Linked DNA regions of Homo sapiens: region 2 is linked to region 1. The links come from fine-mapping of genetic effects on gene expression. A gene starts in region 1. The other region holds a variant in brackets. All regions are shown on one strand. Distances are from middle to middle.

Region 1 (4,221 bases):
TGGTGGCTCGTGCCTGTAATTCCAGCTACTCCGGAAGCTGAGGCAGGAGAATCGCTTGAACCTGGGAGGTGCGGGTTGCAGTGAGCCAAGATGGCGCCACTGCACTCCAGTCTGGGTGACAGAGCGAGGCTCTATCTCAAAAAAAAAAAAAAAAAAGTTCTCTGAAAAAGCACACTATGAAGGAGCAGAATTTTTATTCCTATTATAATGAGTGTATCAATACTTCCAACACCAGGAAGTTTATGTTTCTTGGAGGGCAAGGAAATACTTTTGAACTTTGTTCAGGTTAAGCCGCGCCAAGACTGGCCCTTTGCTTCCCTCTGGACTAGAGAAAGGTCAACCTGTTTCTTATACATGAAGCGAGGATCCAAAATTTCTATAGTGAGCGGTGGGTGGGTTAGCGACAGCCATTGGTGGTAGTAGGGCTTGAAAATGCACGCTCATAGTCCTTTGCATAAGATTAAGAAAACGACTGTTTTGTACATCAGACGGACATTCAAGGGCAGGGGCGCAAAACCCCTCCTCCAAGCCCCTTTTTGTCACTATCCGCTGCTCCTCATTCCTGCCTTTTGCCTGGCTTTCTGGGAGAGAGGGCAAAAAGGGAGAAGGGGAAGTGTCTTGACTTCTAAGAGTGATGGGTGACTAAGGGGGAACTACCATTTATTAAAGACCTAGTACATGCCATGCACTTATACCCGTTACCGCATTTAAACCTCCTAACTATGAGGTAGGTATTATTATGTAACAGAGTATAGCAGTAAATAGCACCGTCCTTGGAAATAGGCAGACTGTTTTTGCTAGTTGTGGAACCGTGGACAAGTTTAGTCTAAAACTTAGTTTATGTAAAAGGAGGACATTGATTCCTACCTCAAAGGGCTGTTAGATGCTCAAGAAGTGACAATACAAATGCCTATGAAGAAACAGGATCAGGTAATTTGCTTGCTCAAGGTCAGGTGATTTAGTAAGAGGCTGACCTCGGATTCTGGTTCCAGCTTATCTAACTCCACAGCCAATGTTCTTTCCACTATCACTCAGTAGTTATAATCATCTTTTTTTGTTTGTTTGTTTGTTTTGAGACAGAGTCTCGCTCTGTTGCCCAGGCTAGAGTGCAGTGGCACAATCTTGGCTCAGTGCAACCTCCGCCTTCCAGGTTCAAGAGATCCTCCAGCCTCAGTCCCCCTAGTAGCTGGGATTACAGGCACGCGCCACCGTACCCGGCTAATTTTTGTATTTTTAGTAGAGACGGGGTTTCACCATGTTGGCCAGGCTGGTCTCGAACCCCTGACCTCAGGTGATCCACCCGCCTCGGCCTCCCAAAGTGCTGGGATTACAGGCGTGAGCCACCGCTCCCAGCCTTATAATCATCTTGTCCAAGTATCGTTAAGTCCTCTGAGGCTCTGATTCCTCATATGCAAAATGGGGTTAACATATTTTATAAAATTCATTCATTAAACTCTTGTGTGGAAGGTGTGCATATAATGGAGACTGCAGCTCCCTCCTCTTTCCCCTTTTCATTCCACGTAGGTCATTTATCCTTAACTTCTAAAATGGACTCTACAAGCACTTAACCGAGCGGACGCAGCTATACAAATACTTTTCAGATTCCCCTTTATTTCCTCTTCTTTCCCACTCCACCTAGGATCCCGCCCCAACCAGCGCCAGGCCACGCCCCGGCGTGTGACGCAAGCACGCTCCGTGCGCGCCGTCGCGTCGCGGCGCTCACTGGGGGCCCGGCTTTCGCCCGCTGCTGCCGCCGCCGCCGCCGGCCGCGGCTGCACTCCCAAGATGGCGGCTCCTCCGGGCGAGTACTTCAGCGTTGGGAGCCAGGTGTCGTGCCGGACGTGCCAGGAGCAGCGGCTGCAGGGCGAGGTGGTAGCCTTTGACTACCAATCCAAAATGCTGGCTTTAAGTATCCTTCCCTGCGTGAAGCCCGAGTCCGGGCCGGCGTGTAGGTGCGGTGGTCGGGGGGTGGGGGACGACGGCGGCGGCTGGGGCTCTCTCCGGGCCTAGGGGCGACCGGCTACCGCGGCGCCCGGGGCGCATGCGCACGGCCCTGAGCTCCCCTCCCCCTCCCGCGGGCCCTTCGGTCAGCTTTGGGGATCCTGTCTCTCTCTCTTTGCGGGAGCTGGGGCTTTACCGAGGATCAGTGGGTGGAGGAGGGCTTGACACGGGGATGGCTTTTTGGGGGGAACGTTATGAGAGGGGACACAGTAATTAGGAGAGGGGGTGGTGGTGGGAGGGGGCTGATGGATTGGAGCCCGGATGGAAAGGAGGGGCGGGTGAAATATTATGGGGAGGGGTGTTTAGGGTAAGGAACTGCTGGTAGGGCAAAGGTATGGAATTTAGGAGGGCATGTGCACTGATGGGATTTCGTCCAAGGAAGGGCGGTGGGATGGTGACCAAATTGGTCCTTGCCTGTTTTGGGGGAGAGTAAGTTCAGGGCAGAGTTTGTATCTGAGCTAGGGATAGTGGCTTGTTTCGCTGATGCGTGTGTATGTGTGGTGGGGGGGCTGTGCTGATTTTTAGGCTTCTCGGTCATTTGGAAGTTGCTGTTTAGGGGATGTTTGCACTGGAAACCTGTTCCAGAGAGGGCTTGCCAGGGGCTTATGTGGTTTGGGGATGTGTGAGTTACAGGTGAAAGAGTGAAGTTCTCATGCTGCCTTGATCAGTCCAGCACATGGAGTCCTTTTACGTAGTAGCAGCCTCCCTTTTGAAAGTAGCAATGTTAAACTGATTGGAAAAGGTGGCCTGCTTCTTTGGGGTGGAAGTGACTTCTGAATTACTCCAGGAAACTCAGTCTTGGAAATGAAACACTTCCTTGTTGGGATAAATGTGCCACGGCTTCCCTTTTTATGTGAGCCACAGGTGGGTTTATTGGAATTTTTTTTTGGAGGAGTAATTTTTTATGGCATCTTTTTTTTTTTTTTTTTTTTAAGATGGAGTCTCGCTCTGTCGCTAGGATGGAGTGCGGTGGCGCAATCTCGGCTCACTGCAACCTCCGACTCCCTGGTTCGAGCGATTCTCCTGCCTCAGCCTCCGGAGTAGCTGGGATTACGGGCACGCGCCACCACGCCCAGCTAATTTTTGTATATGTTTTTTTTTAACAGAGATGGGGTATCACCATGTTGGCCAGGATGGTCTCGAACTTCTGACCTCGTGATCCGCTGGCTTCAGCCTCCCAAAGTGCTGGGATTACAGGCCTGAGCCACCGCCCGGCTTTTTTTTTTGTTGTGTTTTTTGAGACGGAGTTTCACTCTTATTGCCCAGGCTGGAGTGCAATGGCGTGATTTCGGCTTACTGCAACTTCCGTCTCCCGGATTCAAGCGATTCTTCTGCCTCAGCCTCCCGAGTAGCTGGGATTGCAGGCATACGCCACCGTGCCCGGCTAATTTTTTGTATTTTTAGTAGAGACGGGGTTTCACCGTGTTAGCCAAGATGGTCTCGATCTCCTGACCTCGTGATCCACCCGCCTCGGCCTCCCAGAGTGCTGGGATTACCAGCGTGAGCCACCGCGCGGCCTAAGAATAGTTGCTTTTTTAAAAAAATAAGAGGTTACACCTGGAAGAAATAAGACCTTTTACATTAGTGGTTTAGTTGGAAGGGTCTTGTAACTAGGAATTACTTTTTTTTTTTTTTTTTTGAGACGGAGTCTCGCTCTGTCACCTAGGCTGGAGTGCAGTGGCACCATCTCGGCTCACTGCAACCTCCGCCTCCCGTGTTCAAGTGATTCTCCTGCCTCAGGCTCCAGAGTAGCTGGGATTACAGGCATGTGCCACCACACCCGGCTAATTTTTTTTTTTTTGGTAGTGACGGGGTTTTGCCACTTTGGCCAGGCTGGTCTTGAACTCCTGACCTCAAGTAATCTGCCCGCCTCAGCCTCCCAAAGTGTTGAGATTACAGGCGTGAGCCATCACGTGAGCCTGGCTGAATTACTCAACTTTTACTTGACATACAGTAGGCTCTTAAATGGTTGGAGAATGAGTTTGTGAATGAATGAATGGATTAACTGGCTGGGTCACCTTGGGTGAATTTCCTTTCCAGTGTGTAGTTTTCTCCTCTGCAAAATGGGAAAGCTCACATCTGAAAGAGTAAAAAGAATACTGTGCAGACACAGAGAGTATTATACGAAGAACAGAAAGGTCTAGCTCTTTTGTCTGGCTCATAGGTTCAAGACAAACGCATTAAATCTGCATTATGCCTCTCCATAAAGCCAGTAGAGAG
Region 2 (4,221 bases), 77 kb after region 1:
CAGAGACAGGGTTTCACCATGTTGGCCAGGGTAGTCTCGAACTCCTGACCTCAGGTGATCTACCTGCCTCAGCCTCCCAAAGTGCTGGAATTACAGGCATGAGCCACTGTGCCTGGCCCCAGTTGAGATCTTATTGCAGGTGACATTTTGTATCCTGTCTTTCCCGCATAACATTAAATCCTAGGCCGGGCGCGGTGGCTCACGCTTGTAATCCCAGCACTTTGGGAGGCCGAGGCGGGCGGATCATGAGGTGAGGAGTTCGAGACCATGGTGAAACCCTGTCTCTACTAAAAAATACAAAAAATTAGCCGGGCGTGGTGGCGGGCGCCTGTAGTCCCAGCTACTCGGAGATACTGAGGCAGGAGAATGGCGTGAACCCGGGAGGCGAAGCTTGCAGTGAGCCGAGATCGAGTCATTGCATCCAGCCTGGGTGACAGAGCAAGACTCTGTCTCAAAAAAAAAAAAAAAAAACAACATTAAATCCTAGTTTCTCATATCATAAATTTCGTAATCATCTTTTAGGTGACTGCATAGTGTTACATTGTAGGAATGTTTCATAATTTTATATCAAATATGCTGTTATTAGAGATTTATGATGCTTCCAAGTTTTTGCTATTATAAATGAACTGTGGTGTACATTTTGTGCCTTGTATCTCCCGATTGCATGTATTAGGTTGGTGCAAAAGTAATTGCGGTTTTTGCCATTAGAAGTAATATTTCAGCAAGTGCCCAGAAGCTGAATTTCTGGGTTAGAGTGCATGAATATTTTTAATGCTCTTGAGTCTTGAGAAGTTGCTTTTCTTTCTTTCTTTTTTTTTTTTTTTTTTGAGATGGAGTCTCGCTCTGTCACCCAGGCTGGAGTGCAATGGTGCGATCTCGGCTCACTACAACCTCCACCTCCTGGCTTCAAGCAATTCTCATGCCTTAGCCTCCCGAGTAGCTGAGATTACAGGTGTGTGCCACTGTGCCTGGCTAATTTTTTGTATTTTTAGTAGAGACAGGGTTTCACCATGTTGGCCAGGCTGGTCTCGAACTCCTGACCTCAAGTGATCTGCCCGCCTCAGCCTCCCAAAGTGCTGGGATTACAGGTGTGAGCCACCTCGCCCCGTCGAGAAGCTGCTTTTCAAAGAGTTGTGCCAGTGTACACTCTCACCAGCCACGAGCCAGCCAGTGTGCCCGTTTTCCTGTATTCTTGCCATCTGTGAGCTTGATTAATTTATTTTGGAAATCTTACCAGGTAAAACATGGCATCCCATTTTGCCTTTTTTAGTTGCCAATGTTGGTATGGTTCCTTGCTAGTGGACTTGTCTGTTCATGTCCATTTACCTTTGGGGGAGCCTAATGTCTTACTTATAGATTTGTGTGTATATATATATATATATATATATATATATATATATATATATATATATATATATATATTTTTTTTTTTTTTTTTTTTTTTTTTTTTTTTTTTAAAGAGACAGCCTCTTGGTCTGTCTCCCAGGCTGGAGTGCGGTGGTGTGATCATAGCTCACTGCAGCCTCAAACTCCTGAGCTCAAAGGATCCTCTCACCTCAGCCTCCCAAAGTGCTGGGATTATAGGTGTGGAGCCACCATGCTGGCCTTGTATTAACCCTTTGTCATATTTGCCATCTGAATTTTTCTTAGTCTATTGATTCCTTCATTTAAAAAACAGTTATTGAGAAATGCAAATCAAAACTGCTTCACACACATCAGGATGGCTAACAACAAGTGTTGTGAGGATGTGGAGAAACTGGAATCCTAGTGTACTCTGGGTGGGAATGTGAAATGGTGTGGCTGCTATGGAAGCAGTATGGCAGTTCCTCCAAAAATTAAGATGGCAAATTTTATGTTATGTGTGTTTTTTGTTTGTTTGTTTGTTTGTTTTTGAGACGGAGTCTTGCTCTGTCACCCAGGCTGGAGTGCAGTGGCATGATCTCAGCTCACTGCAAGCTCTGCCTCCTGGGTTCACACCATTCTCCTGCCTCAGCCTCCCGAGTAGCTGGGACTACAGGCGCCCGCCACCACGCCCGGCTAATTTTTTGTATTTTTAGCAGAGACGGGGTTTCACCGTGTTAGCCAGG[A/G]TGGTCTTGATCTCCTGACCTCGTGATCCGCCCGCCTTGGCCTCCCGAAGTCTTGGGATTACAGGCGTGAGCCACCGCGCCCAGCCTGTTATGTGTTTTTTACAATTAAAATGCTAGGGCCGGGTGCGGTGGCTCACACTTGTAATCTCAGCACTTTGGGAGGCTGAGGCGGGCAGATCACTTGAGGTCAGGAGTTCAAGACCAGCCTGGCCAACATGGCGAAACCCTGTCTCTACTGAAAATACAAACATTAGCCGGTGTGTTGGTGCATGCCTGTAATCCCAGCTATTCCGGAGGCTGAGGTGGGAGAATCACTTGAACCCAGGAGGTGGAGGTTGCAATGAGCCGAGATTTTGCCATTGCACTCCAGCCTGGGTGACAGAGTGATACTCCGTCTCAAAAAAAAAAAGACAGAAAGAAAGAAGAAAAAGAAAAAAAAAAGCTAGAGAACCAGAAAATATCCACTAAAAAGAAAAAAAGATGTTATTGAGTTCTACTTTGTGTTAAATATCTCTGTGTGCTGGCCATGGAGATTATCAAAACAATAAAATGTCAAGGTGCCCATGGTCCATGGGGATGGAAATATACAGAAATCATCACAACATGGTTTCAACTCCGCTCTGAGAGAGGATTGAGTGCCCTGGAGTGCTCAGGGTGGCAGTCAACCCAGGGCAGGTGAAGTGGTCAGGGAAGCTTCCCCGGGGAGCTGAATTGAGGATAAATTAAAGTTAGCCTGGCAAAGCGAGGTGGTCTGATCTGTGATTTCAGTTACGCTTTTATGACATGCACACCATTTAACGCTTGTGCGGGCAAGGCTGTTGACCTTTCTTTTTGTGATTTCTTCCAGAGCTTTTACGCTCGTAAAGCTCCCTTTCCGCAAGAGGTCTGATGATTCCATTTCGTCCTGTTTTCCACAGTTCAATTTATTTTTATATTTAACTCTTTAATCTACCTGGAAATTATTTTGATGATTGGCAGTGGGATGAGACCCTGGTGGAAGGATGAAGAGGCAGAAACAGGAGGAAATGTCTTCATTCTGCTGCCCTTCCTCCTGACTTGGTGGCTCTGGGGCTCCCACGGGTCACCTTCTCCTCTCCCTGTGGTCATTTCAGTGATGGATGAGTGGGATGGCGTGTGGCTGTGGCCCTGGGTGATTGGAGGTGATGGTCCAGTAGACCATGTTGGTCTGAATTAGGAGGGATGCAGAGCAGACTGCTGTGAGGACTTCCGGCGTGGGGACTGGACAGGACAGATGGAGGCATATGTCCCACCGCTCTCTGCCCCTCCCTGCTACCGAAGCACTCGTTCTCCATCCTTGCCCCCTTCCTCCCTCCCTATTGCTAATTTTAGTTCTCTGTTCATCTGTTTGTTTTGGGCTGTGTTCCCTGCTGGACTGTAAGCTCTTAGAGGGCACATGCCATGTCTGTTTTGCTCAGAACAACAGGCACTGGCCTCCTCTCAGTGCCTGGAGCAAGGACTGGCACAGACGAGGGGCCCAGTGAATGTTGGTTGGATGAACAAAGGGAAGAAATGGCCTCTTCATGCCAGCCCCACAGGGGTGTGGCATGTGGGAAGCTGGGAAGAGTGGTCATTCTGAGCTGTCTGCTCCAAGACCTGGAGACAGATTGCTGGATGGGGGACTGAGGATTCAGAACCCCCAGTATGGGTCGACCTCTCAAGGTCTGATCTTCGAGCTGAATTCCATCAGTAGCAGGGAGGCTGAGAGGCTGGGAGTCTCCCCTGCCCAGATGCCTTTTGTAGCTGAAGTCCCAGGGTAGAGGCGATGGGCTGGGCCCAGAGGAATAGGGCTGGGGAGACAGGGCTAGAGTCCTGGAGGCAGCTGCTTCTGATGAAGCTCAGTCTCAGGGGCTCAGAAACATTCATTACAGCCAGGAGGAGAAGTAATTAAGTCAGAGAGCAGCGGCGGGGAGGGAGGGAAGCCCCATTTTCTCAGGAGTCTCCAGGTGCAATTAATAAGGGCAAGGGAGGGGAGAGCTCTGCCCAGTCTGATGATATTGGTAATAGAGACATGGTTTCAGGGCCACGGTCACCATGTCTGTGCTGACCACCAGAGGAGGGGTGGACACAGGGGCCCGAGGAATGTGTTAGCATCTGGCTTCATGAGGCCAGGGCC

Alleles and levels. Alleles are on the strand shown, and positions count from the first base shown. SD is a standard deviation of normalised expression in the study named.
In carriers of allele A in region 2, the expression in fibroblasts of the gene that starts at base 1,702 in region 1 tends to be lower than with G alone (moderate effect, 0.57 SD a copy in GTEx).

Evidence for each region. PIP is the estimated chance that this variant, and not a neighbour inherited with it, causes the effect.
Region 2: its variant is the best candidate, but not a certain one, in a credible set for the expression of LSM12 in fibroblasts (GTEx, PIP 0.88).

The regions. Positions count from the first base shown.
Region 1 is chr17:44,064,152-44,068,372 of GRCh38, reverse strand. LSM12 (LSM12 homolog) reads left to right here and starts at 1,702. Exons shown (of 5, transcript NM_001371445.1): 1 at 1,702-1,909. The coding sequence starts at 1,786. RefSeq lists silencers at 1,620-1,739, 2,030-2,169.
Region 2 is chr17:43,987,045-43,991,265 of GRCh38, reverse strand. It overlaps a transcript of PYY not described here. Among named protein-coding and RNA genes, the nearest start is that of NAGS, 15 kb to the left of the region's middle. The variant A/G (reference allele first, on the strand shown) is at 2,088.